2 separate regions of the Homo sapiens genome follow, and region 2 is linked to region 1. The links come from fine-mapping of genetic effects on gene expression. A gene starts in region 1. The other region holds a variant in brackets. All regions are shown on one strand. Distances are between the middles of the regions.

Evidence for each region.
Region 2: its variant is fine-mapped to the expression of MSRB2 in whole blood (TOPMed, PIP 0.99).

The regions. Positions count from the first base shown.
Region 1 is chr10:23,092,466-23,097,841 of GRCh38, reverse strand. It overlaps MSRB2 (methionine sulfoxide reductase B2), which reads right to left and starts at 2,263. Exons shown (of 5, transcript NM_012228.4): 1 at 2,116-2,263. The coding sequence starts at 2,233. LOC107984215 (a long non-coding RNA gene) reads left to right here and starts at 2,563. Exons shown (of 3, transcript XR_001747394.2): 1 at 2,563-3,022. RefSeq lists a silencer at 1,986-2,455.
Region 2 is chr10:23,068,513-23,073,888 of GRCh38, reverse strand. It overlaps LOC107984215 (a long non-coding RNA gene), which reads left to right. Exons shown (of 3, transcript XR_001747394.2): 2 at 4,321-4,414. Among named protein-coding and RNA genes, the nearest start is that of MSRB2, 24 kb to the left of the region's middle. RefSeq lists an enhancer at 3,080-3,189. The variant G/A (reference allele first, on the strand shown) is at 2,914.

The DNA.
Region 1 (5,376 bases):
TTGTCCTTTCCACTTATTTATGTAATCATAACTAACATTTATTGTGTGCCTAAGTGTCAAGCATTGTAACAAAATATTTAATTAAAAAGTTATTCTTTACAACAACCCTACCATTATCATTATCCTTATTTGACAGAAGGAAAAAAAATCTGAAGTTTAAACTTTCCAAATTCAAGAAACATGTCCAAAGACATTGTTACAAACTGAATATTATATGTTCTCCCTGCTCCTCTCCCCACTCCCATATGCTAAAGCCCTAACTCCCAATGAGATGGAATGTGGAGGTGGGGCTTGGGAGGTTATTAGTTTTAGATTAGATCATAAAGGTGAGGCTCTCTTGAGGGATTAGTGGTCCTTCCTGAGACAGTCACCTGAAGGCAGAGTGAGAAGGCAGTCAACTGCAAGCCAGGAAGCAGGTCTGCATCAGGAACCAAATCTGTTCCCACCTTGATCTTGGACTTCCCAGCCTCCAGAACTGTGAGAAAATGTTGTTGAAGCCACCCAGTCCACGGTGTTTTGCAATAGCAGCCTGAGCTCAGACACAGAGCCAGGAAGTAACCGAGAGCCAAGACTCAAAATCTGCATCTATTCATACCCAAGCCCTTCACCACAGAAATACTCCGTTTATCATTTTTAATGGCTGCCTAACAGTTTGTTGGATTGAATTTTCATGATTTACGTAAGTATTTCTTAACTGATTTGGGTTACAGCCAGTTTCCATTTTGTAAGAGACTAGTGCTTAAAGCATCTTTGCATATATCTCTTTGTTCTTCTTTTGAACTATTTCCTTCGAATAGATTCCCAGGAGGGGTGTCTGATAAGGTACACAGCTCCTGTTACCTACTGGTGGCTGGCCAAATTTTATTGTTGCTGGAGAACTTCAGATCCCAGGGCAATTCATTAGGCTGCTTCTGACAGCAGCAATTACAGCCATGAAGTAGTTACCGCTAAAACCACCATCCTTTTTCAAGGGGTTATAGAGAGCTCGTCGGTAACTGTGACCTGTTTCTATCACCTGTGGTTCTCAGCAATACAATGCTTGGCACACAGTAGGCTCACAGCAAATGTCATCAGACTGACTAGAGACACCAGTGATTAGAAAGGCCATAGCTGGAAGTCAAGTTGGATGAGCTAACATTCCACAACGCCAACGCTTTTATTTAGTTACGTATTCTTTCAATATTGCATTTCGAAAACTTCAGGGGCTAAAAAGAGCTCAGAATGAGTTGGTACATTTTCATCAGTTGGGTATCTCTGAATGTCTTCAATGAACACATATAAAATTGGATTCAGAGTGGGTCAGTCTGGCAACCGCCCAGGAAGCCAATCCCCTGGGGCACTAAGTTACCCTGAAATAGAACTGAAATACAGGGGTAGCTGGCACAGGTCTCCCGAGGTGACTCCTTCCTGCTTGGTGAAATGTGCAGGTACCCAGATCCAAGAGAGGATCCAAAAGTATTTAGCAGAAACACACACACACACACACACAGAGAGAGAGAGAGACACACACACACAGGCTCGCCCTGGTCTCTGTCTCAGTCATTAACAATGGCTGTCACCTTAAAGAAGGAACAAATGATCAACCCAGTCTCCCTGGCTCTTAGACACATTTATGGGAAGTCAGCAGGGCAGGAAACACTCACAGGAACCCCAAGTCTGAACTGCCTGCTTCTCAGATGCTGGAAGGAAGCCCGCGGAACTACGAAGAGGGCTGCAATGCAAAATACTAGGGGCCTTCGCAGGGGCGCGCGGGCCGGGCTGCTACAGCCCAGGCCCCGGGCCTTCGCCTGGAGTCCCCGATAGGGGTCAGAGGCCCCCGAGCCCCACTTATGCCCCCACTCCCCGAGCCAAGAAAAAAAAAATTATGCGCACATTTAGGGGGATCATTTGTTCATTTCCTCGGATTCTCACAGGGGTCAGTCCCCACCCTGCCGCCACCAAGTTTACAATCCACTGTCCCAGATCCTCGGGCTGGGGGGGGGGAGGGGCGCGCCGAGGAGGGCTTAGTAGGAGGGCAGCGCCCGGCCTGGACCGGCCCTAGGCTCCCGGGTGCAGCCGGTGAAATGAAGCCGAAAGCCGTAGGCGGCGGCGGGGCCTGCGGGACCCGCGTCCTACCTGCCTCCCCCAGTCCCGGCCCGGTGCCGGGCCCGCCGCCGCCCGCTTGGCCCCGCACCGCCCGCCGAGGCGCAGTTCCGAGGGTCAGGCCCCGGAGCAACCAGAGGAGCCGCGCCATGACGCCCGCTCCGGCGCCGCTCCGCCCTCTGCCCTCTGCCCGTCTCTGCCCCTGCTCCCATCCCACCCCTCCCCCATTCTCTCCCGTCCGCCTGCGCTAGTCGGCCTCCCTCCCCACGCTCCGCCCACACCGCCAGTCCCCTCGTCTCCCTCCCCCTCTTCTCCCTCCCCTGCCCCTCCCTCCTTCCCTCCTTCCCACCTGCTCCTCCCACTATGTGCCCTGGGCCCTCCCAGGTCCCCGCCCCTCTTTCCTCCCACTCTGCCTCTCTCTCCCCCTCCCTCTTCCTCTCCTTTTCCCCTTGCCTTTCCTCCCCCTTCCTCTCCCCCTTCCTCTCTCCCTTCCCTTCCATGAGACCCTCCCCAACCCATCTCTGCATCTCCCAGCTCCTCCCACTCCTGCTCCTCCCTCGCCCTGCCCCCCTCCACCTATCCCAACTCCACTCATCCGCAGCCCAAACACTGATCTGTTTTAGTTTGCATTTTCTAGAGTCGTCCATAAATGGAATCATCCCATATGTACTTGATTTTGTCTGGCTTCTTTCACTCAACATAGTTACTTTGACATGCCTGCGTGTTTTTGCATGGAACAATCATTCATTGCTTCCTGAGCAGTATTCCATTTATGGATATACCACCGTGTGTTTAGTCAGCACTTGATTTAGCCTGCTTTCAATTTTTCCTGATTAGAACTACAGCTGCTAGGAACATCCCTGTGCAAATCTTTGTACAGACATATACGGTTTTTCCTCTCTGGGGTAAATACCTGGAAGTGGAATGCCCAGGTCGTAAGGTAGGTGTAACCATTTAAGAAACTACTATACTGTTTTCCCAAGTGGTTTTTTTCTTTACCTTCCCACTAGCAGTCTATGCGAGTTCCAGTTGTTCTTCATCCTTGCCAACACTTGAAAGTCCAGAGATTTTAACTGTAGATGTTCCGGTTCTGTGTAGTGGTAGCTCATTGTGGCTTTATTATGCATTCTCTAATCGTTAATGATGTTAAGCATCTTTTCATGTGCGTATTTGCAGCGAGTGTATTTTCCTTGGTGAAGTGTCCGTTCAGATCTTTTGCCCATTTAATGTTGAGTTGTTTCATTATTGAGCTTAGAACACTTTATATATTTTGGATGCAAATCTTTTATCAAACATATGCTTTACAAAGATTTTTTTTCCCAGTCTCTTGTTTGTCTTTTCTGTCTCCTAATATTGTCTTGGGAAGAGCAGTTTTTAATTTTGATGAAGCCCAATTTATCAATTTGTTAATGGATTGTTCTTTTTTTGGTATCATATTTAAGAAATCTTTGCCTAATCCAAGATCACAAAGATTCTCTCCTATGTTTTGTTCTAAAATTTTTATAGTTCTAGGTTTTACATTTAGGTCTCTGACCGATTTAGAATTTTTATATATGGCCAAAATTTTTGTTTTGTTTTGTTTATCTGTTTTGTTTTTTGCATATCTATATCCAGTTGTTCCAGCACCATTTTTATTGATTGATTGATTGATTGATTGAGACAGAGTCTCTGTCGGCCAGGCTGGAGTGCAGTGGCACGATCTTGGCTCACTGCAACTTCCATCTTCCAGGCTCAAGCAATTCTTCTGCCTCAGCCTCCTGAGTAGCTGGGATTACAGGCGTGTGCCACCACGTCTGGCTAATTTTTGTATTTTTAGTAGAGACGGGGTTTCACCATGTTGGCCAGTCTGGTCTTGAACTCCTGATCTCAGGTAATCTGCCTGCCTCGGCCTCCCAAAGTGCTGGGATTACAGGCGTGAGCCACCAGGCCTGGCTCCTAGCACCAATTTTTAAAAGACTACTCTTTCTCCACTGAACTGTTTTTGAATCTGTCAAAAATCAGTTTCCTATCAATGTGTTGTGTCTATTTCTGGACTTCCTATTTTGTCCCATTAATTAATTTGTCTATTTTTACATCAATATTACAATATCCTGATGACTGGACTTGCAACCAGCTAGCATTGGTACTGTACCTCTGTTCTTTTTTAAGGTTGTTTGGGCTATTTTAGGTCTTTTGTATTTCAACATAAATTTTAGATTCAGTCTGTCAATTTCTACACATGATCTTACTTAAGTTTTGATTGGGATTGCATTGATTCTATCCATAAGTTTGGGGGAAATTAATATCATAACAATATTGAATCTTTTGACCCATGAATAAAGATATGCCTATCTATTTATTTAGGTCTTCCTTAACACCTACTAGTAGTGTTTTGTAGTTTTCACTGTATAGGTTTTGCACATCTTTTGATAGATTCATCCTAAAGCATTTCATATTTTTGATGCTGTGGTATTGTTTTATCAATTTCAATTTCTGATTGCTAGTATGTAGATTTTGTATATTGATCTTGTATTCTGTAATCTTTCTAAACTCATTTCTTAGTTCTAGTAACATTTTATGGATTTTATCAGATTTTCTACATAGAAAAATCATGTCATCTGTGTAGAAAGAGTTTTACTCTTTCTTTTTAATACAGATGTCTTTGATTTCTTTTTCTTGCCTTATTGCACTGGTTAGAGCCTGCGCAGTGTTGAATAGAAATGTTGAGAGTGAACATCCTTGTCTTGTTCCTGATCTTAGAGGAAAAGTATTCAGCCTTTTACCATTAAGTATGATATTAGCTATAAGTTTTTCATAAATTTTCTATCAGATTAAGGAAATTTCTATTTGTAGTCTACTGAGAGTTTTTATCAGGAAGGGATGTTGGATTTTTGTCAAATGCTTTTCTGCAGCTACTGATATAATCATACCTTTTTCCTATTTTCTTTTTGTAGTTTGTTACTTGATTTTCAAACGTTAAACCAACTTAGTATTTCTTCAATAAAGCCTGCTTTGTCAGTTTTATTATTTGTTTCATGTATTGTTGGATTATGTTCTATGTATCATGGATTACATTTTTTTAGAATTTTTGTGTCTGTGTTGATGAAGGATGTTGGACTGAAAGCTTCCTCTCTTATAGTATCTGTCTGGTTTTGTATCTGAGTAATAAGTAAACAAATTCAAATCCAGAGAGGATAAGTACCTTGTCTATGATCACACTGCTAGTTAGTTGAAGAGTTTGTAAAGTTCCCCTAAAGTTTAGAATTTAGAAAATATCAAGGAATACCGGTTTAACTCACCCACCTTCACCCCCAA
Region 2 (5,376 bases), 24 kb after region 1:
ATTTAGTTTTTTACAAGACTTGTGTCATTTGCCAAACTATGTTAAGTCAAAAATTTTAACACTCCCCACAACCCAGCGCACACACAGGCCACTAATGGAAAACTTAAGTCAGGCATGCACACTCATTAAGTGCCAGCCAGGAATGCTCTGTCAATCCTAACACAGGAATGCCTGACAAGTCAAGGCAGCTGAAGACTCTCTTTGGTCCATGAGGTGCTATCTTCCTGTGTTGTAAGACAGAACGCAGAAGGAGCTCCCTTTTGCAAGGCTAAGGGATAGTGTGGCTCCCAAACAGTGAAAGAGAATATCACAGCACTCACACCATGATGAACAATAGGCGTCTGGAAGGTCACTTACACCAATGTGTTTCTTTTTCCTCTTCAGAGTAAATTTTTAGGAGCTAATCTTTCTGGGAGCTCCACTAAGAAGGAAATCAGAATCTCATCCTAATTTGAGTCAATATTCTAAGAATTTTGAGGCACAAACATTCATTTTTTCATTTATTTTGAGACATGGTCTCTCTTTGTCACCCCGGCTGGAGTGCAGTGGTGCCATCATAGCACACTGCAGCCTTCAGCTCCTGGGCTTAAGTGATCCTCCCGCCTCAGCCTCCTGAGTAGCTGGGACCACAGATGCATGCCACCATGTCTGGCTTTTTTTTTTTTTTTTTGTAGAAATGGGTATTGCTGTGTTGCCCAGGCTGGTTTTGAACTCCTGGGCTCATGCGATCCTCTGCCTCAGCCTGCCAGATTGCTGGAATTACAGCCATGAGCCACAAAATATCCTTTAGAGAAGGGAAATGATATCCTAGTTCTTTTCCTGAGGACTTTTATTCTATTCCACTTCCTGATCAGGTAAAAAGTGTTCTGGGAAACCCTGCCTTCCTTATTATTTTCTTTAAGTTCTCTCCTTTTCTCCAACATAGAATTTATGGAAATTGGAGTGCCTGCAAGAAGGGAGACTTGCCTCTGATCCCCTGGCCAGAGGCTTAACAAGCCAGACTAAAGAGTGGTGGGAGAATTTTTTAGAATACTTGACATGAATTCTCTGGAGTTTGGGGAATACAAGCACACAGGGCCTGCTGCCAACTTTTGTTCTGGAGCGTTCTGAAAGAGGAAGGTCCAGTGGAGAGTTCACTCTGCATCAGCAAGTATTTTTTTGTTTGTTTTTGTTTTTTGAGATGGAGTTTCGCTTTTGTTGCCCAGGCTGGAGTGCAATGGTACAATCTCGGCTCACTGCAACCTCCACCTCCTGGGTTCAAGTGATTCTCCTGCCTCAGCCTCCCAAGTAGCTGGAATTATAGGTGCCCGCCAACACGCCCAGTTAATTTTTGTACTTTTAGTAGAGACGGGGTTTCGCCATGTTGGCCAGGCTGGTCTTGAACTCCTGGCCTCAAGTTATCCCCTCACCTCAGCCTCCCAAAGTGCTGGGATTACAGGCCTGAGCCACTGTGCCCGACCTTCTTTTCTCAGTTTTGAATTGTTGCATTGAGATATTAATTCCTTACTTTTCATTCCTTGTCTCAGGCATCTCAGAGCTTCGACTGACTGAATATATGCAGAGTCCAAAATGAGATAAACAAGCAGTTGAGTATACTTTTATTTGGCTCCAATGCCCTCAGTGTGGTCACAGCTGTCACCGGAAGGTTATTCATTTTGCAATTTTGTGTTCTTGTTTCTAGTGCTAATCTCTCCAGGGCACCGGAAGGTTATTCATTTTGCAATTTTGTGTTCTTGTTTCTAGTGCTAATCTCTCCAGGGCATTAAGAAGGCTAGGCCGGGCGCGGTGGCTCACGCCTGTAATCCCAGCACTTTGGGAGGCCGAGGCGGGTGGATCATGAGGTCAGGAGATCGAGACCATCCTGGCTAACAAGGTGAAACCCCGTCTCTACTAAAAATACAAAAAAAAATTAGCCGGGCGCGGTGGCGGGCGCCTGTAGTCCCAGCTACTGGGGAGGCTGAGGCAGGAGAATGGCGTGAACCCGGGAAGCGGAGCTTGCAGTGAGCCGAGATTGCGCCACTGCAGTCCGCAGTCCGGCCTGGGCGACAGAGCGAGACTCCGTCTCAAAAAAAAAAAAAAGAAGGCTAAAATGGGAATTGCGTGGGTTATTAATAAAGAGACTTTGATTCAGAAATTCACAAAACTGCACATCTCTTTCAGTTGTAAGCCAAGGTGATAGTTTACTTTTCAGGACTGAGTAGCATCTGTCCTATTTCTTGCTACACAGACATTGGGAAAGAAAGAGTGAAACTAGCCAGGTGCAGTGGCTCATGCCTGTAATCCCAGCACTTTGGGAGGCTGAGACAGGAGGATCACTTGAGCTCAGGAGTTCGAGACCAGCCTGGGCAACATGGCAAAACCCCATCTCTCCAAAAAATACAAAAATTAGCCAGATGTGGTGGTATACACCTGTAGTCCCAGCTGCTTTGGAGGCTGAGGTGGGGGAATTGCTTGAGCTCATGAGATTGAGGCTGCAGTGAGCTATGATTACACCATTGCACTCCAGCCTGGGCAACAGAGCGAGACCCTGTCTCTATGTAAAAAAAAAAAGAAAAAGACTCAGGCTAGCCTAAGTGGGAGATTTTTTTCAGATTCTAGGCAAGTGGTTCTCAAAGCGTGGCCCCAGACCAGAGAAGCAGGCTCACCTGGAGCTTGTTAACAGTGCAAATTCTGAGGCCTCATCCCAGGCCTAATAGAATGGCTATTTCTGAAAATGGGGCCCAGGAATCATCAGCGTCCAGCTGATTCTGATGCCCGCTGAAGTGTGAGAACTGCTGCTCCGTCAGTCTAGTGTGAGAACAGGTGCCTTGAATTGAATCATGCTATGAGTACAGAGAGCACATTTCAGCTTCCTGTACTGCAGTCTAGCCAGGTTAGCAAATACAGGGTCATAGTTAATAGCTGGGACACTGA[G/A]GACCACTTCTCTTTTAAAGTGGCTTGTGGTTTGGGAACACCACTCCTAAGCCTTAGTTAATGGCGTCAGTAATTACTTGACTGCTTACAATTAGATAATGGTGTCAGCAAATTGGGTAGTTAGTAGCCAATCTTCTGAGGAGCCACCTGAACATGGGCACAGCCCATGGCTGAGTACCCAACCATGACAAAGGGCACATCGGAGACAGATAACCAGATACTATAGAACACATTATTTCTTGAACTGCAACAACCTTGTTACTCCAGACAGAAGAATATTAGCACTTGAGTCACCCAATCTCTGTCTCCCCTCTGTTTTTCTGTGTCCTTTAACAGCCTCTGTGACCCCTGTTTTAAGTGCATGTCCACATCTGCATTTTACAATGGTTTCTATAAAATTGTGACAAGAACGTTCCATCGGAATGTGCAATTAAAAGATAAGTGCTGCCATCAGCACTTTTTTTTTTTTTTTTTTTTTTGATGGAGTCTTGTTCTGCCACCCAGGCTGGAGTGCAGTGGTACAGTCTCGGCTCACTGCAACCTCTGCCTCCTGGGTTCAAGCCATTCTCCTGCCTCAGCCTTCCTAGTAGCTGGGATTACAGGCATGCCTCACCACGCCTGGCATTTTTTTGTATTTTTAGTAGGGGCAGGTTTTCGCCACATTGGCCAGGCTGGTTTGGAATTCCTGACCTCAAGTGATCCGCTCGCCTCAGCCTCCCAAAGTGCTAGGATTACAGGCATGAGCCACCGCACCTGGCCCATCAGCACTCTGAATAGATCTTTCTAATCACTTGAACCCAGGAGGCAGAGGTTGCAGTGAGCCGAGATTGTGCCATTGCACTCTAGCCTGGGTGACAGAGCGAGACTCCATCTCAAAAAAAAAGATCTTTCTGGGCCTTAACTCCAGCAATAGCCAGAAGAGTGTGTGTGCACCCAGCCTGACCAGGACAGTCTTCTCCCTTTCTCATGCGTTTCTGTCTTAATGAGATGGGCAATTGCTAAGGAGAACTTCGGTGCCAGAGGATGGCAGCCAAAGCCTACCTGCCCTGGGCTTCTCCCTATACATGGAGACACTGCTACCACCTAACCCACTACTACCCTGCCCCAACCATGGCCAGTTCTTCCTCTTGGACACATGTGGGAACTGTTGTTCCTTTTTGGGAAATGCCATCATTCTTCTTTGTTTCACTGTTGTCACTATGAGACCCAGGGACCTGAAAACAAATCAATTAGAACAAGATAGGAATTAGCATGTATCAAATAAGACTGAGGAGTAATTACTGCGTGGGTGAACCTGTGCAAAAACAGTCACGCTGGTCGCATATTTATGTCCTGCCATTTGCTAGAAACTTTCAAGCGTCTACTACTGTTACTTTAAAAATGTCTACATGGAAATTCTATCCCCAGCCTAACCTGAACTTAAGCCGGCAGATGAGGATAAGGCTCCCCAGCCTCCCGGAACAAGCAGACAGTTATTAATGGAAATGTTCCACCAGTTCAGGTATGTGCTAACATCTGTTAAAATTGCATTTGTACAGGATTGCATGAATTACTGATACATGAACACATTGCTTTAGCCAAACACAAGCTTTTATGATTTCATGATGAGGCTTCCCAGAGTTCTAGGTTATGACAACCTGACTTTCAAAGTTACACGTTAAAGCAATCTGTTTGCATCCCAGGCTGACTGTGCAGAAGAGATTTGCGGTTGGGACAATCTGCCATTTAAAGAGAATGAGGTCTCTAGTCATTAAGGGAGACAGAATCTGTGGCTGGGACTTTTTCTGGGGCATCCTGAGTAGGTAGCTGTGTGGCCTGTCACAGTGCGGTTTTTCAGAGGAATGTGTGTCATGCGTAGAATAGAGAAATTTATTCCTGAGCATTTTAATTTTTTTTAGAGACAAGTTCTTGCTCTGTCACCCAGACTGGGACACAGTGGTGCAATCATGGCTCACTGCAGCCTCAAACTCCTGGGCTCAAGTGATCCTTCCACCTCAGACTCCTGAGTAGCTGAGACTACAGGTATGCACCAGCATGCCTGGCTAATTTTCTTTCTTTCTTTATTTTTTTTTTTGTAGAAATGGGATCTGACTATGTTGCCCAGGCTGCTCTTGAACTCCTGGGCTCAAGCAATCCTCTGGCCTCAGCCTACCACAGCTTTTGGATTACAGGCATGAGCCACCTGGCCTCTTGAGTGTCCTTAAATAAAAATCAGCAGGTGCAAGTGCCAGGGCCTTGTCAAGCCTCCACTATTGCTGGATCGACATCTCTTCTGCCCATGGCTTTTCCCAGGATCATCTCTGCATTGCTATAGACTCCGCCATCTGTCTCACCCTGCTTTTGAGTTGGTGCATCTTACTGGGGGCTCTAGACAAATTAAGCATTGTTGTGAAGTGCACTGGCTCCGTGCTGAACTTGCTTTTTATTCCACCTACCTTCTTATAAAAAATGTTTTGGAAAGTA